Linked DNA regions of Homo sapiens. The protein of the gene in region 1 purifies or fractionates together with the protein of each later gene. This does not show direct contact. Each region holds a gene or a part of one and is shown on either strand. Other genes may lie near its edges. The genes, in order: DPF2, SS18L1, HMGXB4, H1-3, BCL7B, BCL7A and ARID1B.

Evidence for each region.
Region 2: the proteins of DPF2 (region 1) and SS18L1 purify together in Homo sapiens (affinity purification with mass spectrometry; 4 studies listed by BioGRID and IntAct, with this or other methods). This does not show direct contact.
Region 3: the proteins of DPF2 (region 1) and HMGXB4 purify together in Homo sapiens (affinity purification with mass spectrometry, with the first as the bait; one large-scale study listed by BioGRID). This does not show direct contact.
Region 4: the proteins of DPF2 (region 1) and H1-3 purify together in Homo sapiens (affinity purification with mass spectrometry, with the first as the bait; one large-scale study listed by BioGRID). This does not show direct contact.
Region 5: the proteins of DPF2 (region 1) and BCL7B purify together in Homo sapiens (affinity purification with mass spectrometry; 4 studies listed by BioGRID and IntAct, with this or other methods). This does not show direct contact.
Region 6: the proteins of DPF2 (region 1) and BCL7A purify together in Homo sapiens (affinity purification with mass spectrometry; 5 studies listed by BioGRID and IntAct, with this or other methods). This does not show direct contact.
Region 7: the proteins of DPF2 (region 1) and ARID1B purify together in Homo sapiens (affinity purification with mass spectrometry; 9 studies listed by BioGRID and IntAct, with this or other methods). This does not show direct contact.

What each region holds. Positions count from the first base shown.
Region 1 is NC_000011.10:65,343,631-65,347,893, reverse strand, and holds part of DPF2 (zinc finger protein ubi-d4), read right to left. Parts: intron 4,150-4,263; coding exon 4,057-4,149; intron 3,904-4,056; coding exon 3,825-3,903; intron 3,315-3,824; coding exon of another isoform or gene 3,273-3,314; intron 2,229-3,272; coding exon 2,091-2,228; intron 1,965-2,090; coding exon 1,836-1,964; intron 1,648-1,835; coding exon 1,535-1,647; intron 1-1,534. UniProt on the Homo sapiens protein: Plays an active role in transcriptional regulation by binding modified histones H3 and H4. Is a negative regulator of myeloid differentiation of hematopoietic progenitor cells. Might also have a role in the development and maturation of lymphoid cells.
Region 2 is NC_000020.11:62,163,804-62,168,066, reverse strand, and holds part of SS18L1 (calcium-responsive transactivator), read right to left. Parts: intron 3,923-4,263; coding exon 3,821-3,922; intron 2,646-3,820; coding exon 2,553-2,645; intron 1-2,552. UniProt on the Homo sapiens protein: Transcriptional activator which is required for calcium-dependent dendritic growth and branching in cortical neurons. Recruits CREB-binding protein (CREBBP) to nuclear bodies.
Region 3 is NC_000022.11:35,291,730-35,295,992, forward strand, and holds the end of HMGXB4 (HMG domain-containing protein 4), read left to right. Parts: intron 1-1,262; coding exon 1,263-1,385; intron 1,386-1,877; coding exon 1,878-1,922; 3' UTR 1,923-4,078; downstream 4,079-4,263. UniProt on the Homo sapiens protein: Negatively regulates Wnt/beta-catenin signaling during development.
Region 4 is NC_000006.12:26,233,304-26,236,631, reverse strand, and holds H1-3 (histone H1.3), read left to right. Parts: upstream 1-1,644; 5' UTR 1,645-1,698; coding exon 1,699-2,364; 3' UTR 2,365-2,420; downstream 2,421-3,328. UniProt on the Homo sapiens protein: Histone H1 protein binds to linker DNA between nucleosomes forming the macromolecular structure known as the chromatin fiber. Histones H1 are necessary for the condensation of nucleosome chains into higher-order structured fibers.
Region 5 is NC_000007.14:73,540,236-73,544,498, reverse strand, and holds part of BCL7B (B-cell CLL/lymphoma 7 protein family member B), read left to right. Parts: intron 1-854; coding exon 855-951; intron 952-4,263. UniProt on the Homo sapiens protein: Positive regulator of apoptosis. Plays a role in the Wnt signaling pathway, negatively regulating the expression of Wnt signaling components CTNNB1 and HMGA1.
Region 6 is NC_000012.12:122,024,423-122,028,685, forward strand, and holds part of BCL7A (B-cell CLL/lymphoma 7 protein family member A), read left to right. Parts: intron 1-4,263.
Region 7 is NC_000006.12:157,203,878-157,207,377, forward strand, and holds part of ARID1B (AT-rich interactive domain-containing protein 1B), read left to right. Parts: coding exon 1-119; intron 120-2,289; coding exon 2,290-3,500. UniProt on the Homo sapiens protein: Involved in transcriptional activation and repression of select genes by chromatin remodeling (alteration of DNA-nucleosome topology).

The DNA.
Region 1 (4,263 bases):
GGTGGATCACCTGAGGTCAGGAGTTGAAAACTAGCTTGGCCAACATGGTGAAACCCCGTCTCTACTAAAAATTAGCCAGGCGTGGTGGCGGGCGCCTGTAATCCCAGCTACCTGGGAGGCTGAGACAGGAGAATTGCTTGAACCTGGGAGGCAGAGGTTGCAGTGAGCCGAGATTGCGCCATTGTACTCCAGCCTGGATGACAAGAGTAAAACTCCATCTTGAAATAAATAAATAAATATAAAATAAAATATAAGACAAGGCCAGACATGGTGGGTTCATGCCTGTAATCCCAGCACTTTGAGAGGCCAAGGTGGGAGGACTGCTTGAGCTCAGGAGTTTGAGACCAGCTCAGCAATATGGCAAGACCCTGTCTCTACCAAAAATATAAAAAAGTAGCCAGACATGGTGGTGTGCATCTGTGGTCCCAGCTACCCGGGAGGCTGAGGTGGGAGGATTGTACTGCTTGAGCCTGAAGGGAAAGGTTTTAGTGAGCTAAGATCGCGTCACTGCACTCCAGCCTGGATGACAGAGAGACTCTGTCTCAAAATAAATAAATAAATACATAAAGAATAAATAAATAGCTGGGTGCAGTGGCTCACGCCTATAATCCCAGCACTTTGGGAGGCTGAGGCAGGCGGATCACCGGAGGTCAGGAGTTCGATACCAGCCTGGCAAACATGGAGAAACCCCATCTCTACTAAAAATACAAAATTAGCCGGGTGTGGTGGCACGTGTCTGTAATCCCAGCTACTTGGGAGGCTGAGGCAGGAGAATCACTTGAACCCAGGAGGCAGAGGTTGCAGTGAGCTGAGATTGTGCCACTGTACTCCAGCCTGGGCGACAGAGCAAGACTCCATCTCAAAAAAAAAAAGTAAATAAATAAATACATAAATAACCATGTCACTTCCCGAGTAAAACCCTTCAACAGTGTCCTGTTGTACCTAGAATAAAACCCGAGGCCCCAGAGATCTGGCAGTGCTTGCCTCTCTCATCTCATTGCCCACCATACTCTCCCATGCCCTGTCATCTGGCTTGTCCAACATAAGGCCTTGGCGCTGGCTGCTCCTTTCCTGGGATTCCTCTACCTCCAAATCTTGACTGGCTCCTTGGTATCACCAAAATTTCAACACCAGCATCACCCTCCCAGAAGAGCCATACCTGACCATCAAAATAAATCACTTATGCAATTATTCTCTGCCACAGTACTGATTTCGTTTTTTTCATGGCACATTATACAAATCTCATTTACATCCTTGCTTATTGTTGTTCCTGTAAGAATGTAAATCTCATGAGGCAGGGACCTTGTTTGTCTTTAGCATCTTTAGTGACTAGAACAGTGTCTGACATAAAATCAGCACTCAATATATATCTGGCAACAAATCAGAGTTCTGACTGAGATGCTAGGGAGGGGCGTGTGGCATGTGGGAGGGATCCTGCTCCCTTTTTAAAAGAAAGCTCACTTTAGAGGGAACTGTGCAAACAGCAGTAAAAGCCCAGAAGGAGCCATGCTGAGGAGGGGGCGGGGATACACACGTCATTCTCGGAGGTGCCGCAGATATTGCAACATTTGCACTCGATGCACTGCCAGCGGTATGTCTTCACTGCCGCCATCATCACGGGGGTAAATTGGAGGCAAGATGGATGCCCTGTAGTGGGGGAAGTGAGTGAGACAGACAGTCGGAAATGCGGGGGGAAGAGAGGAGCTCCTGCCTGTGGCTACATCTTCTCTTGGTTAGGAAAAGCGAGGTGGGCTGGTTATGACAGCCCTAGAGGCCAGCAAGCCAAGAGCCCCTTGGGGACTGGGCAAAGCAGCAGCCTTCACGGGAAGCAGTACCTGAGCGGCCACAGTCAGAACAGGACACCAGCTCCTCGGGTTGTCCCGTCTTCTTGTTAATCTTTGAGTCCCCCAGGCAGAAGTCACAGTAGTTGTTGGGCAAGGCCAATCCATCAGGACCCTTTTTGGCTACAGAGAGAAAGAGTTTTGATGACACCCATGGGGGTCCCTGAGCCACTCAACACCCATGCAAGGAGTGGTTTTCATAACCAGGCCAACTTCTGCTTGCCCACCACTTCTGACACCTCAGCTTACATTTCTGCTCCTCAGACCTCTGGGAAACAGGAGTGGGTGGTTGAGAGTCTTCCTTGTCCTCGCCCTCCTCCTCAGCCAAGTGGGAGTGGGCATAGTGGTAACTGAGGCCTGGTCGGTTCTTGTAACGTTTTCCACAAACTGAGTGGGAAGAAGATTGCAGAGAAAGGTGTTAGGATACAAGAGTGCCATGTCCCCATCCCTGCAAGCTGTGGGGGCTCCACCTGAGGCAGAGGGCAACCATCCCTTCCCCTAGCAGCTCCACTCTGGGACAGGCCTTGAGTGACGGCCACTTCCCCTCAGCCAGGAGCATCAGGCCGTGGGGCTCTCTAGCTTCTGGGGCTCTTTTCCCTCCTGAACTCCAACCCCATGGCCACCACTGCTCTTCCATGTTGACTTTTGGGGGGCTTAGCCCTTGCCCCATCACCAGTTAGTTGCTCTGGGATATACTAACAGTCTGGGACGCTCCAGGTCAGGAAAGGGAAGGATATTCCTATATCTTTGGGGTGGCAGGAAGGGGGAAAAGTGGATAAGACTCCAAACTTTTTTACCCCTCAGTAAATGTGGGAGGCTCATGCTACCCCACACACCATGGAGCCCATCTCCCCTGAATGTGGGTAAACAAGCAGGGGATGGGTTTCTTGGGGATAGCCTATCAATGAAGCCAGTTGGGCAGTTGGTCCCCAAAGAAATTCAAGCACACTCCCATGTAATTGCCCTGTCCAGGCCTGCCAATCAGCAAGGAAAGCAGATCCCCATGAGGCATTTTGTCATCTTGAGAAGTAATACCAAGAAGGGCAAGGGGGCCAGCAGGAAAGGAGTGGGGAGAGAGGATGGCAGGAGGAGGTGGTGGGGCAGTGGGGAACATGAGCTGACCACCAGCTGCCTGGTCTGGGGAGGGAGCGGAAGGGTCTGATTGTAATGGGCTCCTGATAATGCTTCTGAAGCCACCCCATGCACTGGGCCGAGCAGCTCTAGGAGCAGGTTTGTGGGAAACAAGCAGTGGTAAAGGCAGCCTTCAGGACTTTGAGGAGTAGAGCACAGCAGAAATTCCACTGCTCCTACCCCCATGCCATTCCAGAGATTTTAAAGCTAGCATCCCAGGAAATGAGAAAGGCAGGAGGAACAAGGGAAGAGGGAAAAAGGGAAAGGAAAACCACAAGTCTGAAAAGTTGAGAGAGCTACCTCTCTGGGGCGCTTTCGAGGTATGCTTTTGTTTGAAACTATCTGAAAGACAGAAAGAAAAGTCATGAGAAGAAGGCCTTGATACACTTGAGACAGGAGCAGCAGCAGCAGGAAAGCAGAGCAAACGAGAGAGAAACCCCAGCGGCGATGGTGCTCCCAGGGTGGAGGGACAGAAGTGGGGCAAGGCAGACAGAAAGAAAAAGAGAACAGACGTTGAAAAACTCAGTGTCAGACCCCTGGGGCCCTGGCTTAACTGAGGCCAGGAGACCTGCAGGCCATCTGTTGAGAGGCCAACCCTGCCTGCTGTGGCCCCCACAAGCAACCCTACCCCAGAGGATGGCAGAAATCTTTCCCAGAGCATGCAGGTCCCACCCGTCATATAGCAGGGACCCAGGCCTCCCAGGGGTCTCAGACGGAAGCAGTCAGCAGGCAGGACAAGAGCCCAGGTTTGTTTTAATACTCTGGGCAAAAACACAACCCTCCCTCCTCTCATATCCAGAGCAGGAGCTGGGTCCAAGGCAAGGTCTACCCACCCACTTGTGAGGCACTCACTGTCACAGGCATAGGGCTTATCCCGGTCCTCCAGGATGGAAGCATCCAGCTTCTTACGGGCACTGCCCACACCCTTACCCTGCCAAGAAGAGCAAAGAGACACCCTTATTTTGGTAGCTGGGCCTGAGGAGTTAGACTCTTTTGGAAGTGGCCGCTAATCTCACTTGAAATAAAATAAGGAATTCCCTAGGCCACCCTGTCCCAAGATGCAGGCAGCACGCTGGCCCCTCACCTTGGATTTCCCCTTTCCCCGACGCTTGGGAGTATCTTCTTCATAGTCTTCATCATCGAGGTCATCCAGGAAGTCATCTGGTTCTAGGATCCGCTGAGTGGACAGGAGGGTTAGCATGGGTAGAAATATGTGCATCCAAAAGCTCCCCTATGATGAGACTGGCCAAGGCCACCCAGAACCTCCTCTGTGACGTGGTCCCACCCACAC
Region 2 (4,263 bases), on another chromosome or scaffold:
CTTGAGCCCAGGAGTTCAAAACCAGCCTGGGCAACATGGCAAGACCTTATCTCTACAAAAATTAAAAAAAAAAAAAAAAAAAAAAAAGCCAGGCCTGGTGGTGCATGCCTTTAGTCCCAGCAATTCGAGAGGCTGAAGCAGGAGGATCACTTGAGCCTGGGATTTCCAGGCTGCAGTGTGCCACGATCAGGCCACTGCACTCCAGCCTAGGTGATAGGGCAAGACCCTGTCTCTTTAAAAAAAAAAAAAAAGTAGCTACATCAGACACTAAAAGGCTGAGCAGCACATCCTGCGTTTGTTTTTGGGACAAAGTGTGGCAGCCTTGGGCAGACGCATGTGGACACCTCGCCATGGACAAGGCTGAACCCTGTGCTCCAGCTGGAAGGGACAGGGCCAGGCCCATGATGGCAGAGATCCTGCTGACTCCCAGGGCTTACGGAGGCACCACTGCAGCCAATATGCCAGAAGATAGCCTCTGGGTGCTGGCCACAGGGTGGCTTTTGTTTTGAGACAGGGTCTGGCTCGGTCACCCAGGCTGGAGTGCTGTAGTGCAATCTCAACTCACTGCAACCTCTGCCTCTGGGTTCAAGCGATTCTCCCACCTCAGCCTCCTGAGTAGCTGGGATTACAGGTACCCGCCACCACGCCCGGCATTTTTTTTTTTTTTTTCGGGAGAGAAAGGGTTTTGCCATGTTGCCCATGCTGGCCTCAAACTCCTGAGCTCGGCCGGGCGCGGTGGCTCACGCCTGTAATCCCAGCACTTTGGGAGGCTGAGGCAGGTGGATCATGAGGTCAGGGGTTCGAGACCAGACTGACCAACATGATGAAACCCCATCTCTACTGAAAATACAAAAATTAGCTGGGTGTGGTGGCGGGGCCTGTAATCCGAGCTACTCAAGAGGCTGAGGCAGGAGAATTGCTTGAACCTGGGAGGCGGAGGTGGCAGTGAGCCAAGATCATACCACTGCACTCCAGCCTCGGCGACAGAGTGAGACTCCGTCTCAAAAAAAAAAAAAAAAAAAAACAAACAAACTCCTGAGCTCAAGCAATCCTCCTCCACTGGCCTCCCAAAGTGCTGGGATTACAGGCGTAAGCCACCATGCCTGGCCATTTCTTTTTTTTATTTCTTTTTATTTTTTTTGAGACAAAGTTTCACTCTTGTTGCCCAGGCTGGAGTGCAATGGCATGATCTCAGCTCACTGCAACCTACACCTCCCGGGTTCAAGCAATTCTCCTGCCTCAGCCTCTTGAGTAGCTCAGATTACAGGCACATGCCACCACGTCCAACTAATTTTTGTATTTTTAGTAGAGACGGGGTTTCACCGTGTTGGCCAGGCTGGTCTCAAACTCCTGACCTCAGGTGATCCACCCACCTCAGCTTCCTAAAGTGCTGGGATTATAGGCGTGAGCCACAACACCTAGGCTCTTTCTTCTTTTAAACTTTCATTATGTATTCATGTACTTTTTGTTTCCCCCAGGTTTACAAAGGTGTAACTGACATTTCAACGTTGCAGGCATTCGTAGCGCACACCGTGATGTTTCTATATGTGCCTACACTTGCGTGCTTTATTTCTTCACAGCAGGCTGAGATGTGTAAGCTCAGAAGCAAAACCTTTACACATCCAATTCTTTAAGAAGTAACCCAAACAAGGAAATCTGTAGCCGTTTAGTGCCTGCCTGCTTTGTGTACCTGGTGAAGCCTCACCAACACTGTTACCTCTTGATAAATTGCAGCCCTGCAGTGGGAAGGCCTCAGCCACTGCTGCCTGCCGGTCAGCGTCAGCAGACACGAGGCCCCTCTCCCCAGGGACTGCAGGCCCGCCTTCCCTCCCGGACGAGGTTGCGCAATCCCGCAGGCGATCATCAGCTCTTCTCTGGGGGCCATCTTTATCCCGGGGTGGGACTGGAACGGGCTGTGTGTACCTCTTCCCAACTCCACATTCTGGGATGTTCTGTTGGGGTTTCAGGGCAGCCAGGGTGGGGGCACAGACACCACAGAAAGGGGCAAGTCCACCCGACACGCAGCCCCCAGCGCAGCACTGCCCAGGACCGCCATGAAGGGCGGCAAGCCCCCAGCCACAGATGTGCGTTTCCTGGCCTGCAGGTGTCTGAAGAAACGCGAGGCCACACCCAGCGCAGCCACTGCTGGCCTCCAGCTGAGGAAGCTCTGAGAGTGGCTCGCAGGCCCCACGATCCCTGGCCAGACCCAATAACAGAGTCTGTGTCCCCAACCCCAGCATGGCCGGCTGAATCCTTCCTGTCGCAGGCCCCACGCTCCCTGGCTGGACCCAATAACCAAGTCTGTGCCCCCAACCCCAGCATGGCCGGCTGAATCCTTTCCTGTCTCACGAACACACCCATAAGGCAAGCGGGGCTCCCGACACAGCCTGAATTTCCAGCTTCCAGAACACACTGTCTCTCCTCCCACGCGCTGTGCTGTGATTTAAGGGACTCACTGAAGGCAGGCACCGCGTGCTCCTAAGGGTGCAGCGTCTTAACTCTGCTGCGTGTGGCGCTTACGCTCGAGCCCAGCACGCAGCCGTGCTCCTTACCCCCCTCATAGTAGTGCTGCGTGGACTCCTCGAAGGACCGGTCGTAGCTCTGCTCCGTGTAGGATGACTGCTGGTAGGCGTAATCGCCATGGCCTGTGCGAAACGGAGACGGCGACAGTCAGCGGAGGCTGTGCACTGCACAGGTCCCGGAGGAGGCAACTGAGACCCAGGCTGGGGAGATGTTGTCTGGCCAGGGAGGCAACAAGAGCCGGCAGGACCCGTGTTCCCCAAAACCATGCCCCAACCTCCTGAGCCTCGGCCTCCCCACTGAAATGCAGACATCAATGCCTCCTTCTCGGGGCGACTGTGAAGCTACCTGGGGATTTATGCAGAGGATCAGCGCTTTCAGTGCCTGCCACACAGCCATGCTAGTGACCCGACTGCCTTCTCCCCGCCACCGCTAGCTCCTGGGAGGACGCAGGCAGGGGTGTCCAACCCTTACCGAGGCCTTCGCTGCATGTGACCATCACGTGGCCAGGGTGGCTTGCCCTGCTGCCACCTGCCCACCTGTCTGTGCACCTGCCCCTTGCTGGCTGAGGCCAGCTCCCTGCCTGGATGCCTCCCAGGGATCAATCCAGCCTTTAAGACCACTTTATTTTATTGTTATTTTTACTTTATTTAGAGACAGGATCCTGCTCTGTCACCAAGGCTGGAGTGTGGTGGTGCGATCATGGCTCAATGCAGCTTCAACCTCCTGGGCTGAAGCGATCCTCCTGCCTCAGCCTCCCAAAGTGCCGGAATGACAGGTGTGAACCGCTGTTTTCAGCCAAGACCACTTTCAGTATCCCTTCCACAAGCCCTGGGACTATGCAAAGACTGAAAGGTGACGACGGTAAAATACTCTGCAGAGATGAGAAGGTGCAGGAGGAGAGGTGCTGCAGGTGGAGCCGTCACCTTCAGGGCATTCTCTGTGAAGCTGGGAGGCGCCTTCTTGAACATTTCCACCTATCTACAGCTAGGAGCTACAATTATCCGCCTCCAACTCCCACAGCCTTTCAGGAAGTAGAGGCAAGGCCGCGTGGAGGCCAGTGCAGCGGTGTGTGCCACAGCTTCTCTCTGCAGAGGCCAGGCACCACTGCCAGCCCAGCTCACCCCATCCCCTACCTTGCTCCTGCAGGGCGTCTGGCCACTCTGCCTGTAGCCCAGGCCTGAGCTGGAATGACTGAGGACACACTGCAGTGGCCACACCCTCCTTGCCCTCCTTGCCCTCCTTGCCCCTGCAGCTGCTCTGCGTTCCTGGGCGGGGTCAGGCCGCCGCCAGTGCTCACCGTCGGGGTAGTACTGCTGGCCCATGGGCTCCGCGGCGCCCTGGCTGTGGCTGTACTGCTCGCCATAGTACTCCTCCTGGCCCAGGTACTGCTGGGAAGAGCCTGCGGGGGAACCACATTCAGCGCCAGTGCGGGCCGCGCCCTCCTCCCTCAGAGGACCTGCTCGCTCACTGGGGAAGCCAAGGCCTTGCTGAATGGCCTCACCCACCCGAGGAGAACACCCCACGCTGTCATCGTATCCAACTTATGTTTTGTATTTTTAGTACAGAGTTTCACCATGTTGGCCAGGCTGGTCTTGAGCACCTGGCCTCAGGTGATCCGCCCACCTCGGCCTCCCAAAGTGCTCGGACTACAGGCATGAGCCCGGCCTGTGACACTCTTAATGACAACTGCCGCCCCTGCCCCCAACACTGACTCCTCGGGGACAGCAGACCCTCCACGGG
Region 3 (4,263 bases), on another chromosome or scaffold:
TGTGAGGCAGAATTTGTTCCCCCCATTTTACAGAAGAATAAACAGACTTAAAGAGGTGAAGTCACTTTCTCTAGAGTTTAGCCCCTAAGTGGTAAAATAGAGACTTGAATTTGGAATGTGACCTCAAGGTCCGGGTTCTTAACCTCTTACTGTACTGCTGCCCTCAGAAAGTATAGGGGGGAGATGTTGACAAGGAGGATGAGGGAAAGGAAGAGTCAGTGATGGCTAGGCCTTGAGACTGGGCAGTTATGTGAATGGTGGTGACTTTGGCAGAGAAATGGATGCTCAAAGGAGGGCTAGATTTGCATGGGAAGGTTATTCTTCCTTACAGGAAGTTGAGATGGAGAAATATCCAAAAGGAGAGACCCAAAAGACAGCCAGAAATGCAGTTTTGAAGATCAAGATGTTGGTAGTAATATTCATAATTACTGATATTTTTTGAGTACTTAACCATGTATTAAGCACCATCCCAAGTATATTATATCTATTATCTCAATCCCATCTGCTGCAGATGCTGTTAGTATCTTACAGGCACAGCATAGTAAGCAACTTGCCTAGGTACAAAACAGTGAGTAGTGGAGCCAGGATCTGGACCCGGGCAGTCTTGAATCCGGAGCTCATTTTCTTAAGGACTGTGCTGTGTTGCTTCCCAATATGACATATTCTCACACTGCTTCTAGTTAAAGCAGATTATACAAGAACTCGGCAGCAGCAACAGTCTTTCTTATCTCTTTGAATCACAAATAGACAATATGAATTACATAAAATGTTAAAATTTGAACCAAATTCACTTTGAGAGTGAACAACTCAACCTAGAAAAATTGTATAATCAGCTATCAAAAGCTACATACATGCAGGGTTGTAGGATTCTCATAGTAATCACATCTGAGCTATATTTGTCGAGTTTATAACAGATATACTTTGCATACATAATCACAAATCTTACCAACAGCTCTCCAGAGTAGGTAAAGCATTTTTTACTGTTCCTGTTAAGGAGACAGAAGTTAAGGATGTGAACTCCCCAAGGTCACTCAGAAGGTAAGAAGATGGGCTAGGATTACGGAAAGGGAACATGGGAATGTGCTGTAAAAGTTTTCTTTCTAAACAACTTACAGAGTTATCAAAGTAAACTTTCCATTTCTGCTGTAAAGTTTCAAATTATAAGAGTAGAACTGCCTAGGATTTAAAGTACTGTGTGAGGAAGTCAGCCGGAACACAGCATCAGGAGTGTGACTCAAGCAACAACCTCCTCTCCTTTTCAGGGTATGGTGGCTGTGTCTGGCAGTTTGTCAGTGCTTCTGGATTCCATTATCTGTGCCCTTGGCCCCTTGGCATGTCTCACCACACAACTACCTGAATTGAATGGCTGTCCCAAACAGGTCTTGGTGAGTTTTCCCTGGATTTTTAGAGTCAGATCCATTGGGCGTCAGAGATGCCCTGCCTTAATGAGCACTGTCAGACACACATAAGGCTTTGTGACACACAGTGCTTCCTTCATCTGTTGGCCCATGGAACATGATGCTATATTATCAAATGCATGCTGTACTTTCACTGAAACTAGAAAACAAGCCATTTACCAAAACAGTACTTAAGAAAGCAGCATTCTAGCCCTTGAGGTACTACAATTCCTGTGTTTCCTGTTTGCTATTCTGCACCCAAAGACAGTACAGGAATTGTTTCCCTCTTTTTTACGAGGATTAATGGGAGAAGTCAGCAGAAAAGTTCCTAGCATAACAAACAGCAGGATGCCGTCTTCATTCTCACCTGTTTTTCTAACTCCATTTGATTTTTCTTATCTCTCTCCTTGAACAAAGAAACATCTCTCAGGAAACCAAGGTACAGTACTCTTCAGTTGAACATTTTTCTTTGTTTTGCAGTCAAACACATTAGACAACATTGCTTACATCATGCCGGGACTGTGACAGCAAAGAATCCTGGGACAGAAACCTTATCCTACACCATTGCTGGTTTGTGTATATATGACTGTTGCAGATTCCTTCAGTGGCCTCTGGCTGTAGGTTTTAAATTTTTATATCTATACATACATATATACATATATATATAATGTACAATATATACATAGACTGTAACTACTTTGCTTTTAATAATTTTATGAAATGGCAAAGGTTTAGCCAAGAGGAAATTTTGGCATGAATACAGGCTTGGGATTCTTTTTTCTCCTGTGGTGGATAAATCTGCCTTAAAAATCAATGTAACTTGGGGGCTGGGGGCTTGTTCTGGGTGCCAAGCGCATCTCTTTATGGACAGCTAAAATGTGATTATTTTCCAAGCTCAGTTGGACCTCCAGACCCATCACTGACCATTTGCCTTACCTGTCTTAGTCTGAAATGTAATAGGAAAGATAACGGGAAGATGCCAGTTGACTGAAAATTCAAAGCCTTTCAATTTGAAGTGACCTAGGTGGGAGGTGATAAAATTTGTTCCCTTTATAGTTATGGAAGTGGCTTAGGTGAATTGAGTAGAGGGTTCATTCCAATTCCTACTGTATAGGTGTCTGTGTCTCAAAATTTATTGTAATCATTGGTACCATTGGTGGCCTCAACAGAGGCCAAGGAGTTCTGTGAGCCCTGGCAGCAAAAAACACCTTGGGGGGTGAAGCTGTCAATGCCACCAGTTGGACCTCCATACATTCTGAGCTAACCCAGAATCTTTAGTCGGCAGAATTAAGTGCTGGTGTCTTTCACTGGCAGCATGAAGTTAGCCACCAAGTCCTCACAAGCCGTGCTGCTTAGTTGCTCGGTGGTTATGGATAAACTTTGCCCAGCATGATTTTTGGGTTCATCTTATCAGTTCCCCTGGTGGGCAGATACACAGTGTTCTGCATTCCACATGTAAGTGAATTGCAAAAACAAAACAAAACTCACTCTCTTGTAGGTTTATTTATGTGTGTGTGAATGTGTATTTTAATTATGTGTATTTAACTCTTTAAAATCTCTTAGATTTTAATTTATCCTGTAAATTTCTGTATATATAATTTAATAACAGAAGCCTCCACCAGCAACAGCATGTGGAAGATACAGATTTGTCATTTCTCCCTTCCGCCCTCCCTTCTTTCCTTCCTTCCTTCCCTGTTTCCTTCCCTCTTTCCTTCCTTCCTCCTGGTCTGTTCCAAAAACTCTGAATCATCTACATTTTAAGGTATTTTACCTCAAAAATGAATCATTGTGTTAGGATTCTAATTCTTTATAAAGAACTTCATGGGCTTCAATAATGTCTAGAAAGTAAAATAAAGAGGAATGTTACCATCCCCAGCTGCCCTTATTTCCAGAGAACCAGACGTTTGTTTCCCAGTTGGAAAGAAGACAGTTGAGCACTTCAGGATGGTTTTTAAATTTGGTATGAGATTCTCTGCCAACACCAAGCTCTGAGTTAACTGTGCTTTCTTCTCCTGGCCCTGACAGAGCACTACAGCATCAAAGTAAATCTTTGGGGACAGTGTAGCCCATCTGCATCCTATTTAATTTCTTCCCTTCTCCCCACCAGTGTTGTCACAGGGCTATGTTGCTTAAAGGTAGTCTGGCTGCTGAATCCCTTTCTCAGCTCAGAGCAGTTTTAAGATTTAATTGGGAATACAGAGAAACAGGATTGTTTGAGAACCAAAATCAAGAGGAACAGAAATCTTAACTTGATTTCATGTGTTAGAACATTGTACCATGCCTCTTCTGTATCTGTGGAAGTTTCCTGTTTGACACAGGGTATCTAGGAGGGGCGGGGAAGACATGGATAGTATAGGAAGACATTAATCCTAGCATTGTCATTTATATACATTAATGAAATCCTGATGAGGACCTGCTTTTTGTTTGTTTTCCTTTGAAACCCAGCCCTATTGTATTTGTATTTAAAATTTGTACACATTTGTATAATAATCTGTACCTTGTGGTATTTGGTACTATTAGAGGAAAAACTTTGGATTCAGACCTTCTTGCAGTTTTTATATCATTGTTTTATTTTGTTTTTTAAATAAATTCTAGTGGTTTGATCCAAATCCCATTACAGTTGTATAAAGAAATAAAATTTTGTACTTATATTATTAAAAATCACATTTTTAATATTTGTAGTCCAGTCTCAGCTGTCTTTTCCCTAATCATGATCATCATAGTTGCTATGAAATTATAAAACCTGTTTTTCACTCTATTCTACCATAATTTTCTTAAGAAAAAAATCAACCCACAATGGAGATTAAATTTCTAATCTTAGCCATTTTCTTAATATACTCCTTACTCTGCTTCTATTAACTTTTAC
Region 4 (3,328 bases), on another chromosome or scaffold:
AACTCCTGACTCAGGTGGTCTGCCCAGCATGGCCTCACAAAGTGCTGGGATTACAGGCGTGAGCCACTGCGCCTGGCCAAGACAAGCTAAGTAATTTTTATGAAATTAGTTGAATGAGGAGAGATGACATCTTTAAAGTTGATTATTTTATCTAGGATTTATATGAAAAAATCCTCTAATCACTATTGAGTGTAGGCCAGAATAACTTGATTTTTTGAAATGAGTATTTTTGTTAGAAGAAACATAACATCAAACTACTTCTCTTGTTTCTTCAACATAGGAGTTCATTTCAGCATCTGATTACTTGATGGAGAATATCAATTTTGTGCTTAATTATTTAATAATAACCTAATTCCATCAGCTGTATTGCAAACTAACAGATAAAGAATACTGAAGTTACTCATGTTTGCTTTGAAATGTTTGTTCAGCTCCTTAGGTGGACATATTCAACCAATTAATTTAGGGTGTGACAGCTTAGTTCATATTTTGTGTGTAAAAAGCCAAGTAGAATGATGAAAATTTACAGTGATTTAAATCAGATATTTTTCTTTCTAACCCTTGATGCCCACACTTGCAATGTTGAAAATTTGTATTTTATTTTTTTAAAGTGACTTTTACCAGTTATTCAAACAGGTTGTACAGAGAAAGAGGAAGGGAAATTTGTATTATAAATATGATTTTAAAATATAAAAAATGTACAAAATTCTATGATGAATATTAGCAAAAAAATAGTGTATTTCATTAAATTATTTATAAAGTGATGGGACACAAACATGTACACAAGCTCTCAATGCTCACAGTTGCCAAAATGATGTTGGCCTGCCATTCTATTATTTGTTGGTTCAGTTTTCTTTTTTGGGGATGTGGTAGTTGATCTTTAATGCCCATTCTAGATCGGAAAAATCCATGATCCTAACTTTTAAGAGAAGGTTGGTAACTCTACTTAGGACTTTTTTTTCTGTAAGAGGAATAATGTAGCCTCACCCTTATCTTTCTGGAAATGTTTAAACCACTGAAATATGGAGATCAAATCCAGCTTACACACTGGTAACTCAAATACTATTTTTTTTTTTAAACTATCTTTTCTAAACTAATCACCCCTCTTGTACATAGAACTTTCTACCTCAGTGCCAATTCCTAGAGGTTGATGCAAACAGCTCGCCAGAGAGCCTGTGCTATTGTTCCTGCGAAAAAACCCAATTTCCCTGCACATTTGGATAAAAATGAGTTTATCTATATAAAGTTGAGACGGTAAGAATTCACAGAACAATGCCCTGGAAGAGAGATTTGCAAATGAAAGAGGGAGAAATAGTATTTTTAAGGAAAACATGAAAGTTGTCTCGATTTGACCGAAGTTTGAAAGAGAGTTGGGGGAATAAGAAAAGTTTCAAGATGCCGGTTTTAAAACTATGCATAGAAACAAAGGCAGGAATGAAGCCCGAACTCTCTCGGATCAGTTTCCCCCAAGTCTCTAATTATTTCATGCCCAGATTTCTTATATTTTTACTCTTTTTTAAGGGGCAACAAACACAGCAGCGCGGTAGATACGAGGAGTCCTTTTCCAGCAGCGCCGCGCATGGAGCAAGGAACCAATCATCACTCAGCGTCTCTCTATATAAACCCTCAGCCTCCCTCGTAGAGGACATGCTGTTCTGACAGTTTGAGATTACTTATTGTCTTTTCTGGGAAGACAAAAACATGTCGGAGACTGCTCCACTTGCTCCTACCATTCCTGCACCCGCAGAAAAAACACCTGTGAAGAAAAAGGCGAAGAAGGCAGGCGCAACTGCTGGGAAACGCAAAGCATCCGGACCCCCAGTATCTGAGCTTATCACCAAGGCAGTGGCAGCTTCTAAGGAGCGCAGCGGCGTTTCTCTGGCCGCGCTTAAGAAAGCGCTTGCGGCTGCTGGCTACGATGTAGAAAAAAACAACAGCCGTATCAAGCTTGGCCTCAAGAGCTTGGTGAGCAAAGGTACTCTGGTGCAGACCAAAGGTACCGGTGCTTCTGGCTCCTTCAAACTCAACAAGAAAGCGGCTTCCGGGGAAGGCAAACCCAAGGCCAAAAAGGCTGGCGCAGCCAAGCCTAGGAAGCCTGCTGGGGCAGCCAAGAAGCCCAAGAAGGTGGCTGGCGCCGCTACCCCGAAGAAAAGCATCAAAAAGACTCCTAAGAAGGTAAAGAAGCCAGCAACCGCTGCTGGGACCAAGAAAGTGGCCAAGAGTGCGAAAAAGGTGAAAACACCTCAGCCAAAAAAAGCTGCCAAGAGTCCAGCTAAGGCCAAAGCCCCTAAGCCCAAGGCGGCCAAGCCTAAGTCGGGGAAGCCGAAGGTTACAAAGGCAAAGAAGGCAGCTCCGAAGAAAAAGTGAAACTGGCGGGACGTTCCCCTTTGAAAATTTTAAACGGCTCTTTTCAGAGCCACCCACAGGTCTCAGTCAAAAGAGCTGAAGCTTTTTGGAGGGGGGAGTGGGGTGGAGAGGGGTGCGGGTGCTGCGGTGTTGTGCGGCCACGGTCTATCCTAGTCGTGCTGGTTGGGGGTCAGTTATTAACAGCTCCCAGCAGCCTGGGCGCAAGGATCCTTCCGTCTCAGTCTCAGCCACAGTCACCGGATAGCTAAGGCTACTTGAGCCACCAGGTCCTACTTTTTCTTCAAATTCCCGCGGTGGTGTGTGATTGGCCGGCCGATTTCTGTTAAAGCGCGGCGCTTAAAAGTGGCCCTGAAAAAATTTTATTTCTGACACAGGGATGTGGTGTAAATGCTTTAGTTTACTTTAGCGTTGAGGTGACTTCCTGAGCACATCCCGTCCTGGTTGTGAGCAGTACGTGGCATGCCCAAGGTGCTTCCGGCCCACGATCTTGTGCAGCTGGTCGTTGAGAATGGCCAACTGCTGGTGGTGCCCGGTGTCTGTCTTTTCGCAGGCCTTTGATAAGCCTTAGCTTTGGGATATCGGCCCTCAGGTACTGTATTTGTAAATAGTGTGGGGGCTGCACTGCGTGACGAGGTGGCTCTCCTGTAATCCCAGCATTTTGGGAGGCCGAGGCGGGGGCATCACGAGGTCAGGAGTTCGAGGCCAGCCTGAAGAACATGGTGAAGCCCCATCTCTGCTAAAAAAAAATACAAAAATTAGTCAGGCGTGGTGCCGCGCGCCTGTAATTCCAGCTACTTGGGGGCTGAGGTAGAAAATCACTTGAACCCGGGAGGCGGAAGTTGTAAGCCGAGATCGCGCCACTTGCACTCCGGCCTGGGCGATAGAACGAGACTCCGTCTCAAAATAAAAAGTGTGCCCATTGTCTTTTTCTGTCAGTGGCCAGCGTCTCCAGGACTTATTTTCC
Region 5 (4,263 bases), on another chromosome or scaffold:
ACATGCCACCATGCCAGGCTCATTTTTGTATTTTTATTTATTTATTTATTTATTTATTTTATTTTTTGTTTTATTTTATGTTTTTTTAGATGGAGTCTCGCACTGTAGCCCAGGCTGGAGTGCAGTAGTGCCATCTTGGTTCACTGCAACCTCCACCTCAAGCAATTCTCCTGCCTCAGCCTCCCAAGTAGCTGGGATTACAGGCACATGCCACCACACTCGGCTGATTTTTGTATTTTTAGTAGAGATAGGGTTTCACAATGTTGGCCAGGCTGATCTTGAACTCCTGACCTCAGGTGATCCATGCGTCTTGGCCTCCCAAAGTGCTGGGATTACAGGCGTGAACCAGTGCGCCCGGCTGGGGTGGTCGTTTTGAATGGATGAGGATGACGGATCAGGAATAGAGCCAGCCTGGGCCCATTTGTCCTGTCACTGTCTGTGTTACATGAGGTTCCTTCTTCTCTCACTTTTTCCCCACTCTGCTACTGAAACAGGAATCTTTCTCAAATGAGTGTTTTGTATTTCTTGCCCATTCGTATAGAGAAGGGTTGCCTGGCGCAATTTGATCAGGGCAGGAGAGGGATACTATGGGATGTTCTAGTCGAAGTGTATGTATCTGCCTGTTGCTTATGATTCACAGTATTCCTGCTGGAAGGGTTCATTTTTCTGAGGCTTGAGGAGAAGTTGCTTGTCCAGGATTCTGTTCTTCCTTGGGTCCTTGGATTCTCACGCTGCTGTCGTTTTTCCTGTTCAGTCCTAATCCAGACCTCTGTGGTCTGTCACATAGCACCCTCCTCCCTCTCTGTGAGTCTCCTGCTTGGCTCTGTCATATTCCTCTTTTTTTCCTTTTCTAGAAAGAAAAGTCAAAATCGAACAGTTCAGCAGCCCGAGAACCTAATGGCTTTCCTTCTGATGCCTCAGCCAATTCCTCTCTCCTTCTTGAATTCCAGGGTGAGTTGCATCTCTGTGTCTTCCTTGCAGGAGAATGAAAACTTGGATGAATGCATTAATAAGAAGAATTGGCCAGGTGCAGTGACTCACACCTGTAACCTCAGCACTTTGGGAGTCTGAGGCGGGCAGATCACCTGAGGTCAGGAGTTCAAGACGAGCCTGGCCAATATGGTGAAACCCAGTCTCTACTAAAAATACAAAAAGTTAGCTGAGCGTGGTGGCGCGTGCCTGTAATCCCAGCTACTCGGGGGTCTGAGACAGGAGAATCGCTTAAACCCAGGAGGTGGAGGTTGCGGTGAGCCGAGATTGCGCCACTGCACTCCAGCCTGGGCTGCAGAGTGAGACTCCGTCTCAAAAAAAAAAAAAAAGAATTCTGTGTATCAATTCAGTGCCTGCTGTTTCGCTGGTATTTTGCGAGGCACTTGACCTAAATCTTTTCATTTAAACTTCACGATAACTCTGCAAGATAGGTAATGGTATTCTCATTTTCCAGTTAAGGAAACTGAGGCTCAGAGAGGTTAAGTTACGTGTCTAAAGTTACATAACTTGTAAGTGACAGACTCCATGTCAGGTCCTGGTTGTCCGAATCAGAAGCTTTTTTTTAGATTGTACTTCATTTTTTATTTTTTATTTTTTGTAGAGACAGAGTCTGGCTATGTTGTCCAGGCTGGTTGTGAACTCCTGGCCTCAAGCAGTCCCCCAGCCTTGACCTCCCAAGGTACAAGCATGAGCCACTGCACCTGGCCTAGACTGTATGTTTTATCATAGTCGCTTAGAGTAGGCTACCCAAAGCCGAAGCTTCTGCTTACCCACTGTTAGGACATGTTCTGCCTCCTAAACCAATCCCGCCGGATCATCACCGTAGTCATGATACTGCCTTTTACACCTACCTGCTAGGTACTGTCTACGAAGCACTTTTACTTTACTTTCTCATTTTTACCCATGTATCAGCCTGTGATATAAACCAGGCAGTTATTATCATCCCTATTTAAGGAAACTGATGCTCAGGGAGGAACAGTGTTTTGTCTAAGCTCAAAAGTGACAGTTTTATTCATTTGGTGACAAAATGCTACTTCCATTTTAGTGTGGGTATTAAAGGTCTTTATAGGAGTCAAGACTAGCATGAGTTTATGACTTTCTCTTCAAAACCAGATTGGAGCTAACCCAGCGTGTAGTTATTCCTTCCCCACCTCTTTCCCAGGCCCCACCAAGGTCAACCATGTGCTGTTGGAAAGGGAACACCAACGTGTGTTCAGTAGTCAGAAGGCTCTGGGAGACATATGAGGCTCCATTTCCTCAGTCTGGCCACCATCTCCTCCTTTTCATTTAGTAAACACTTAATGAACTCCCACTGTATGCAGGTACCGTGCGTTGCACTGGGGAGTCAAGGACAAGTGAGCCACAGAGCCTGTCCACAGAGGCTCATGGGAGGAAGCACGTGTGCGAAATGATAAATGCAGGCGTGCACAGGCTATCACAGGAGAGTAAGAGAGGGTGGGCATTTCCACCTATGCGAGCCAGGGAGGTAGGGCTCCGCGGAAGAAGTGATGTCGGGGCTGTGTTGGGAGGTCTGAGGCTTTCCAGGACAAGAGAAGGCAGCCTAGCCAAGGAACAGCTGGGCAGAAGCACCCATGCATGACGAAGCTCTTGGGTTAGGGTCCAGTCTGCCTGGAGCTGAGGATGCTTGTAGGAGAACAGTAGGCACTGAGGCCAGAGATCAGAAAGGACTTCCTATGTTGCGATAAGGCCAGCTCCTGCCTCTCCTAAGAAGTACTGGGTATGGCTGGGCGTGGTGGCTCATGCCTGTAATCCCAGCACTTTGGGAGGCTGAGGCAGGTGGATTACCTGAGGTCAGGAGTTCGAGACCAGCCTGACCAACATGGTGAAACCCCGTCTCTAATAAAAATACAAAATTACCCAGGCGTGGTGGCGCAAGCCTGTAATCCCAGCTACTCAAGAGGCTGAGGCAGGAGAATCAGTTGAACCCAGGAGGCAGAGGTTGTGGTGAGCTGAGATAGCACCATTGCACTCCAGCCTGGGCAACAAGAGCGAAACTCGGTCTCAAAAAAAAAAAAAAAAAAAGTACTGGGTATGACATTTCTCCCTTAGGCAGCAGTGGAGCGTCGAAGGGTTTAGAAAGGTCTCTCTGGCAGTGGTTTGCAGTTCAGTTTAAGGTACGTGAGACTGGAGGCAGGGCAGTGAGGTATGTGGCTGTTGCAGGAGGCCAGGCTGGAGATGATGAGGCTTGAACTGAAGCAGTAGGAGAGGAAGGAATGAGCACAAATGATACCAGAGCAGGAGGGGGAAACACTTTGGTGACTGGCTACTGTAGGTGCAGCGGAGGAATGCATTGGTGACTCTTACTTTTTTTCTTTTTTTTTAATTTTAATTTTTATTTTTTGAGACGGAGTCTCGCCATGTCACCCAGGCTACAGTGCAATGGCACGATCTCAGCTCACTGCAACCTCCACCTCCCGGGTTCAAGCGATTTTCCTGCCTCAGCCTCCCAAGTAACTGGGATTACAGGCGCGTGCTATCATGCCCGGCTAATTTTTGTATTTTCAGTAGAGACGGGGTTTCACCATGTTGGCCAGGCTGGTCTCAAACTTCTGACCTCAAGTGATCCGCCCACCTTGGCCTCCCAAAGTGCTGGGATTACAGGCGTGAGCCACTGCACTCGGCCTGGTAACTCTTTTTTTTTTTTTTTTTTTTTTTTTTGAGACAGAGTCTCGCTCTGTTGCTCAGGCTGGAGTGCAATGGCGCGATCTCGGCTCACTGCAAGCTCTGCCTTCTAGGTTCATGCCATTCTTCTGCCTCAGCCTCCTGAGTAGCTGGAACTACAGGTGCCCACCACCACAGCCGGCTAATTTTTTGTAATTTTAGTAGAGACGGGGTTTCACCGTGTTAGCCAGGATGGTCTCGATGTCCTGACCTTGTGATCTGCCCACCTCGGCCTCCCAAAGTGCTGGGATTACAGGCGTGAGCCACCGTGCCTGGCCTCGGCCTGGTAACTCTTAAGTTTTGCACCTTGATGGTGACTTTAAGCCTTCAGGCAGAACTCCCAGGTGCTAATCCGTCAGTCCGGCAGCCGAAGCCTGAGCTCACCACCTTCAGACACCACCAGCCTCCTTCAGATGCCCAAGGATGCCTGACAAATGTCATTTTCTACACATCTTATGATGTGAGAAGGATTGAGAAGTACTGACCAGAGACACAGCTACATCCCTCCCTTCCACAAGCTGCAATCAGTGGATAATAAAGAAGAGTTTAATAAGCATATCCTGACCTTCCTAAAGTGTAATGTTGCATAAA
Region 6 (4,263 bases), on another chromosome or scaffold:
TAAGGTGGACTTTGTAGAAACTTGGCTTTGAGGTTTTTTGTTTTTTTTTTTTTTTGGCCCCTTCTAAGCGAAAGCCTTGGACTTATTGCCCAGGTTTCTCTGGCCCCTGAGAAGCCATATCTCACCTTCCCCGCGCCTTCGGATTGGGTCTTAGACTCAGCCCATGAGACTGTGGGTTGTTTATTAATTGTGTGGTCACCAACCATGCATTTCACCACTGGTGGGGGGGTGGGGTTGCCAGGTTTAACCAGATAAAAATACAGCACACCCAGTTAAATTTGAATTTCAGATAAACAATGAAAGATTTTTTTAAAAATAAATGTTTTTGAGTATGTCTCATGCAATATTTGGGACACACTTATACTAAAACATTATCTAATTTATCTGAAATGCAAATTTAACAGGGCACCCTGTATTTTACCCAGAGGGAAGCCGAAGTGTTTGGCAGATCATTTGGCCCCATGAGCCTTGGGTGGGTTTCTCCTCAGCCCTAGTGACCCCTAAAATTACCCCCCCGACCCACCCACTGTCCCCTGATGCTTCCCCCACCCCCGGAAAAAGCTGTGGCCTCCCTCTCATTTGGGGCAGGCTGCCTCCTGTTCTCTTTTTCTGGTGTTTCAGCAAGGCAGGCCAGTGGAGGTGAGGTGACCAGAAGATGGCTAAAGGGAAAACAAAATGGTGGGCCTCTTTTTGGGAAACTGGGCCAGGGTTTGGGGGCCCTGTGCTGGTGGAGGAGAGAAGACCCCAGGGCGATGGTAGGAGACGAAAGCTTGGGCTGCAGCGTAAGCTTGGAGGCCCGCTGCGGTGGCTCACGCCTGTAATCCCAGAGCTTTGGGAGGCTGAGACAGGAGGATTGCTTGAGCCCAGGAGTTTGAGACCAGCCTGGGTCTCAAACCAAAAAAAAAGAAAAAGAAAAAAAAGAGCCGGGCGCGGTGGCTCACGCCTGTAATTTCAGCACTCTGGGAGGCCGGGCAGGCGGATCACGAGGTCAGGAGATCAAGACCATCCTGGCAAACATGGTGAAACCCCGTCTCTACTAAAAAAATACAAAAAAATTAGCCAGGCGTGGTGGCGGGCGCCTGTAGTCCCAGCTACTTGGGAGGCTGAGGCAGGAGAATGGCGGGAACCCAGGAGGTGGAGCTTGCAGTGAGCGGAGATTGCGCCACCGCACTCCAGCCTGGGCAACAGAGCGAGACTCCATCTCAAAAAAAAAAAAGAAGAAGAAGAAAAAAGAAAAATTAGTCTGGACGCAGTGGCTCATGCCTGTAATCCCAGCACTTTGGGAGGCCGAGGCAGGCAGGTCACCTGAAGTCAGGAGTTGGAAACCAGCCTGGCCAACATGGTGAAACCCTGTCTCTACTAAAAATACAAAAAATTAGCTGGATGTGGTGGTACACGCCTGTAATCCCAGCTACTCTTAAGGCTGAGGCAGGAAAATTGCTTGAACCTGGGAGGCGCAGGTTGCAGTAAGCCGAGATCGCGCCACTGCACTCCAGCCTGAGCAACAGAGCAAGACTCCATCTCAAAAAAAAAAAAAAAAAAAAAAGAAGAAAGAAAAGAGAAAAGGCCGGGCACGTTGGCTCACACCTGTAATCCCAGCACTTTAGGAGGCCGAGGAGGGAGGATCACGAGGTCAGGAGATCGAGACCATCCTGGCTAACAGTGAAACCCCATCTCTACTAAAAATACAAAAAATTAGCCGGGAGTGGTGGCAGGCGCCTATAGTCCCACCTACTTGGGAGGATGAGGCAGGAGAATGGCATGAACCCACGAGGCAGAGCTTGCAGTGAGCCAAGATTGCACCACTGTACTCCAGCCTGGGCGACAGAGCGAGACTCCGTCTCAAAAAAAAAAAAAAAAAAAGAAAAAAATTAGACAGGCATGGTGACCCTCGTCTGTAATCCCAGCTACTCAGGAGGCTAAGCCTGGAGGATCACTTGAGCCCAGGAGGTTGAGGCTGCAGTGAGCTACGATTGTGCCACTGTACTCTAGCCTGGGTGACAGGGTGAGACCTTGTCTCAAAAAACAAACAAAAAAAGTAGGCTTAGGCCCAGGACCCCTTAGCACCTGGTCTGAGGGTTCCCTCAATGACTTGCTGTGAGGACTGAGAAAGGTCTGTGCCTGAAGAGCTCCCGTCTGTCCCAGGAGAGGTAGAGGTTTGGGCCTGAGGCCTCCCTCACCTCAGCTCCTCCAGAGGTTTCATCATGGAGACATTCCTACTGGGCACATGGCAGGTCAGGCAGACCTGGGCCTAGCTAGGGTGAGGCCAGCCATGGGCCAGGCCTCTTGAGGTGACAGGGACTAGCCATGAGGAGTGAGTACAAGGACAGGGAGTAGAGCTTTCCTGGAGGGAGTCAGCAGGGTCCCCTTGAGTGGTGGGTAACCCTAAGATGGTCTTGTTGGCTAACCCTTGGACCTGGACACAGGAGAACATTCGAAATTGGCCTTAGCCTGGAGAATCTGGGATGGATTCTTGTAGTTTATATAGGAGTCCGTGCTGGGGAGGAGCAGTTGGGGCTATATTCCTACTGCTGGGACCTCATTTTTTCCTTTCCTCCCAGAAGCTCAAGTGTAATGGGAAGGGAAAGGTGTTGAAGTCAGGGTAAGGTGACGGGGCCGCCAAGACAGGAGGCGCGGGGCACACCCAGGGCCAGCTTTGCAGCAAGTTGGGCTGCAGCCTGGTGGTTGTGGGGATTTCTGCACCTGGTGCTTACAGGTGTCAAGAGTGAGGGCATCTGAGGGGGGCCAGAGAGCCCATCTGGGGCAAGCTGTCGCTCCCTGGGGCATGTGGGCCCAGGTCATGTTTTCAAGAGTAGCCAGAAGTCTGGATTCTTATGCAAAGCCTGTTTTGTTGTTTGTTTGTTTGTTTGTTTGAAGTTTGGCAGCAGATTTAACATTTTTAAAGTACTGTGCAGGCCAAACAAAACACGCCTGTTGACTGGTTGTTTGCCATCCTAAATATAAAGTGGGGCCCATGTGTGGTGGCTCACACCTGTAATCCCAGCATTTTGGGAGGCCAAGGCAGGAAGATCACTTGAGCCCAGGAGGTCGAGGCTGCAGTGAGCAGTGATCGCACCACCGCACTCCAGCCTGGGCAACAGAGGGAGACCTTATCTCAAAAAAATAACAAATAGGCTGGGCACAGTGGCTTATACCTGTAATTCCAGCACTTTGGGAGGCCAAGGCGGGTGGGTCACCTGAGGTCAAGAGTTTGATGTCAGCCTGGCCAACATGGTGAAACCCGTCTCTACTAAAAATACAAAAATTAGCCGGGCGTGGTGGCATGTGCTTGTAGTCCCAGCTACTCAGGAGGCTGAGGCAGGAGAATCGCTTGAACCCGGGAGGCGGAGGTTGCAGTGAGCCGAGATTGTGCCACTGCACTCCAGCCTGGGCCACAGAGCAGGAGTCCGTCTCAAAAAAATAAAAAAAATAAAAAAATAAGAAAGTGATGAGTATAGCTTAATACCCTCATTGGGGAAGAGGAGCAACGCCCTTTTTTGGGGAGGGGTATGTGTTCTGTGGTGATGGTTTTGGGGGGCAATTGTGGGAAACCTCAGCTGCTCCGCTGAACCCGTGTGCCCACCCAGTGTGTCTGTGGCTGTGAAATCCCATGTCCTCCTGGGTGCTCACTTGGTGCCTTAAACTTGAGCTCCATGGCCCCTCCGGGTGGCTGCTTAGCTGAGCATAGGTCCAGCTCAGAGGTAGAATTCTTAATGTTCTTGCCTCTGTCCCAGAGTCCCCTCAATGTCCACACCTAGAAATACAGTTTCTCATCACTGGGGTAACTTGAGAACTCGGTGAAGAGGTTGCCAGTTGGGGCAAAGAGAGGCACGAAAGCCTGGCTGCATTCAGCTTGTAGCCTGCGGTGGCCTCGAGCCTCGCTGGGAAGCAGCTGCAAACTTGCATCTTGGCTGATTTGCGGCCGCAAAGCCCAGATCTCTGGCACACTTTCTGCCCTGAAAGGTGTCCTGTGTGTTACAAGTCAATTACTTTTTTTTTTTTTTCCCAAACACAATCAAACCTTGAATGGGTTGATTTACTGGGAAGCTGGTCCAGGGCTCATGAGTAATGAATGGCTTTGGCCAATCTGCATGGAGTCCTGGCAATTTGTCATTCTTCCTCCAGCTTCTGTTACCCTGGCGCTCCTTTAGAATGATTCTTGGTTTTCATGGCCAACAGAATAGCAGGAGGTGGTGTCTGGGGTCCGAGCCCAAATCTAATTCTCTTCTGCCACTTCCTGTCTGTGAGACCCCAAGCTAGTGG
Region 7 (3,500 bases), on another chromosome or scaffold:
CGTGGCGTGTGATGATGTCCCTTAAATCAGGTCTTTTGGCTGAGAGTACGTGGGCTTTGGACACTATTAATATTCTTCTGTATGATGACAGCACTGTTGCTACTTTCAATCTCTCCCAGGTAAGCCAGCATAGTCCAACTAACAACCAAATTAGGATAGGAGAGCATCAGGCCATGCACATTTGTGCTTGAACTAATGCCTGAGTTGATGAGCACTGACCGTCCAACACTGTTAATCACTGCAGTTGTTATCAACCAGCCTTAATCAATGTAGAGTTATCTGGGATAATATTCACTGTAGTCTTTAGTGTGTGTACACACACATACCTCTATTTCTTATGAGAGAACAGTGACTGTGTGTGTATGTGTATATGGGATAGATGACAGTAGTAACATTAAATTGTTCAGAATGAATATTAGCTGGCCAATGGGAAGAAATCAAAATGTAACATTAAGTTGTGACTGGAGTCAGCATTGGAAACACAGTTGGTTGCAATGGGACATAACCCTGCTTTCCAGGAGGACTTGACATCTTCTTTTCATTAAAAAGATATTCAAGATTTAGAAATTTTATATTCTATACATTTATAGAATGTATAAATATATATAGAAGGAGAGAGAGCAGTTTAATGAACCCCCATGTACCTGTCAGTCAGCTAAAATAGTTATGAACTCATGGCTAAACTTACTTCTTAGTCTATGCTCTCTCATTTCTGCCTCTCTCCAGGTTATTTTGAAGCAGTCATGTAAAAGCCTACTACTTTTAATGAGCTTAAACCCCTCCTTTGTTCAGAGGTAGGCTTCAGGTAGCTTCCAGCATAATAGCTAGAAGAGAGGAGCACTGAAGTTTGGGGAAAATGCCCGAGTCCACTGGGCTATAGACTTTTAAAGAAATATTTAGAAATAAAAAATGGAAAAAGGTCATTTTCCCTATAGTATACAAACAACTCTCTACTTTGAGTGCAAAAACTAAAACACTTAATTTCCTTGCTTCTAAGGAAATAAGACCAGAATCTTCTACTTCTTTCTTCTCTCATTTAAGCCCTCATTATCAGCCTAGAAAGGCAATTTTTCAATTGCTAGAAAGTTTATTAATAAGGTCATAAACATTGTACGAGTTCTGTGTTAACAGAAAATAAGTATTTAAAAACTGTATACTGCATTTGCTAGAGTAATGCGCTTTCATCCTTATGTTAGGTGAACTGTTGTTGATCACATATTTGCATAACCAGAATTGCTTTATTAACTTTCCCTTTTCCCCTGGAAAAAAAAGGGAAAATGCCCTTGGAACATTGTGCCTTCAGCACACTAAAAGCAGTTCTTTCTAGTTGGTGCTGGGGGCTTCCCCTGACTTCTTAAAAATTGTTCCAACTCTACTTTCAAGAAACTGACAGTAGGATATGAAGGTATAGCTGATTTCCAGAACATCTACCGGGAAAGAATCCTTGTTAGAATCCTTGTTACTTACTCTTTAGAGTTCCTAAACATGGTGGGGGGTGTTGGGAGAGAGGGCAGTTGCTAATCGTGAAGTGTATTGGTTTTTTCTTGGTACAGTTGCTTAAAGGAAACCAAACTTGTTCTTGTAGTCAGTGGTTCTCTCATAGTGGTTTTTGCCTTTCAGCTAGAGTCATAAATAACTGAAATGTAAAATTGCATTTTATGAAACATTTTAATTTATTTATCATAGGCTAAATTGATTTGTTTTTAATTTTCAGTGTTCATGAGCTACCACATTGCTGAAATTATCTTCTCCAAAAGATATATAGAGAACATAAATTAGGGTGACCTATGGTACCTGAGACAAAAATAACCATAAAATCCTAAGAATAACAACCATAAAAATCCCGGCAAGCAAGTCTCAGATAAATAATAGAAGAGAACAGAGTCACTTTGGGCAAAAGAGTCTATAAAATCCATGTTCCCACTCTTCTAATAATGAGTACATTGTCTCTAAATCAGGAACAGAAAGGTAAAGAACAGCAAGGCACTCCCTCAGTGATAAGATTAGAGATATGAGAATAAAAAGTAAGTTTTCGTGTAGATAGTCTAAGCAAGGAAGCAGCAAATAAGGAACATGCTAAACATCGGTTTAGTTTATACTGTAAAATTCAGGAAGTTCGCTGGACCTGAAGGGTAGTTTATCTTTCATGGTCCAGCCAAAAAGGGAGACAAACGTGTGACAATGATGGAAAGGTATTGACGGGTCTCAGGATCTTTACCCTCCTCGGTCATATCTGATGTCATGACATTGTACCTGTTCTTTCTTTCTTCTCCTCCTCCTCCTCTCCAGTTGTCTGGATTTCTCGAACTTTTAGTCGAGTACTTTAGAAAATGCCTGATTGACATTTTTGGAATTCTTATGGAATATGAAGTGGGAGACCCCAGCCAAAAAGCACTTGATCACAACGCAGCAAGGAAGGATGACAGCCAGTCCTTGGCAGACGATTCTGGGAAAGAGGAGGAAGATGCTGAATGTATTGATGACGACGAGGAAGACGAGGAGGATGAGGAGGAAGACAGCGAGAAGACAGAAAGCGATGAAAAGAGCAGCATCGCTCTGACTGCCCCGGACGCCGCTGCAGACCCAAAGGAGAAGCCCAAGCAAGCCAGTAAGTTCGACAAGCTGCCAATAAAGATAGTCAAAAAGAACAACCTGTTTGTTGTTGACCGATCTGACAAGTTGGGGCGTGTGCAGGAGTTCAATAGTGGCCTTCTGCACTGGCAGCTCGGCGGGGGTGACACCACCGAGCACATTCAGACTCACTTTGAGAGCAAGATGGAAATTCCTCCTCGCAGGCGCCCACCTCCCCCCTTAAGCTCCGCAGGTAGAAAGAAAGAGCAAGAAGGCAAAGGCGACTCTGAAGAGCAGCAAGAGAAAAGCATCATAGCAACCATCGATGACGTCCTCTCTGCTCGGCCAGGGGCATTGCCTGAAGACGCAAACCCTGGGCCCCAGACCGAAAGCAGTAAGTTTCCCTTTGGTATCCAGCAAGCCAAAAGTCACCGGAACATCAAGCTGCTGGAGGACGAGCCCAGGAGCCGAGACGAGACTCCTCTGTGTACCATCGCGCACTGGCAGGACTCGCTGGCTAAGCGATGCATCTGTGTGTCCAATATTGTCCGTAGCTTGTCATTCGTGCCTGGCAATGATGCCGAAATGTCCAAACATCCAGGCCTGGTGCTGATCCTGGGGAAGCTGATTCTTCTTCACCACGAGCATCCAGAGAGAAAGCGAGCACCGCAGACCTATGAGAAAGAGGAGGATGAGGACAAGGGGGTGGCCTGCAGCAAAGATGAGTGGTGGTGGGACTGCCTCGAGGTCTTGAGGGATAACACGTTGGTCACGTTGGCCAACATTTCCGGGCAGCTAGACTTGTCTGCTTACACGGAAAGCATCTGCTTGCCAATTTTGGATGGCTTGCTGCACTGGATGGTGTGCCCGTCTGCAGAGGCACAAGATCCCTTTCCAACTGTGGGACCCAACTCGGTCCTGTCGCCTCA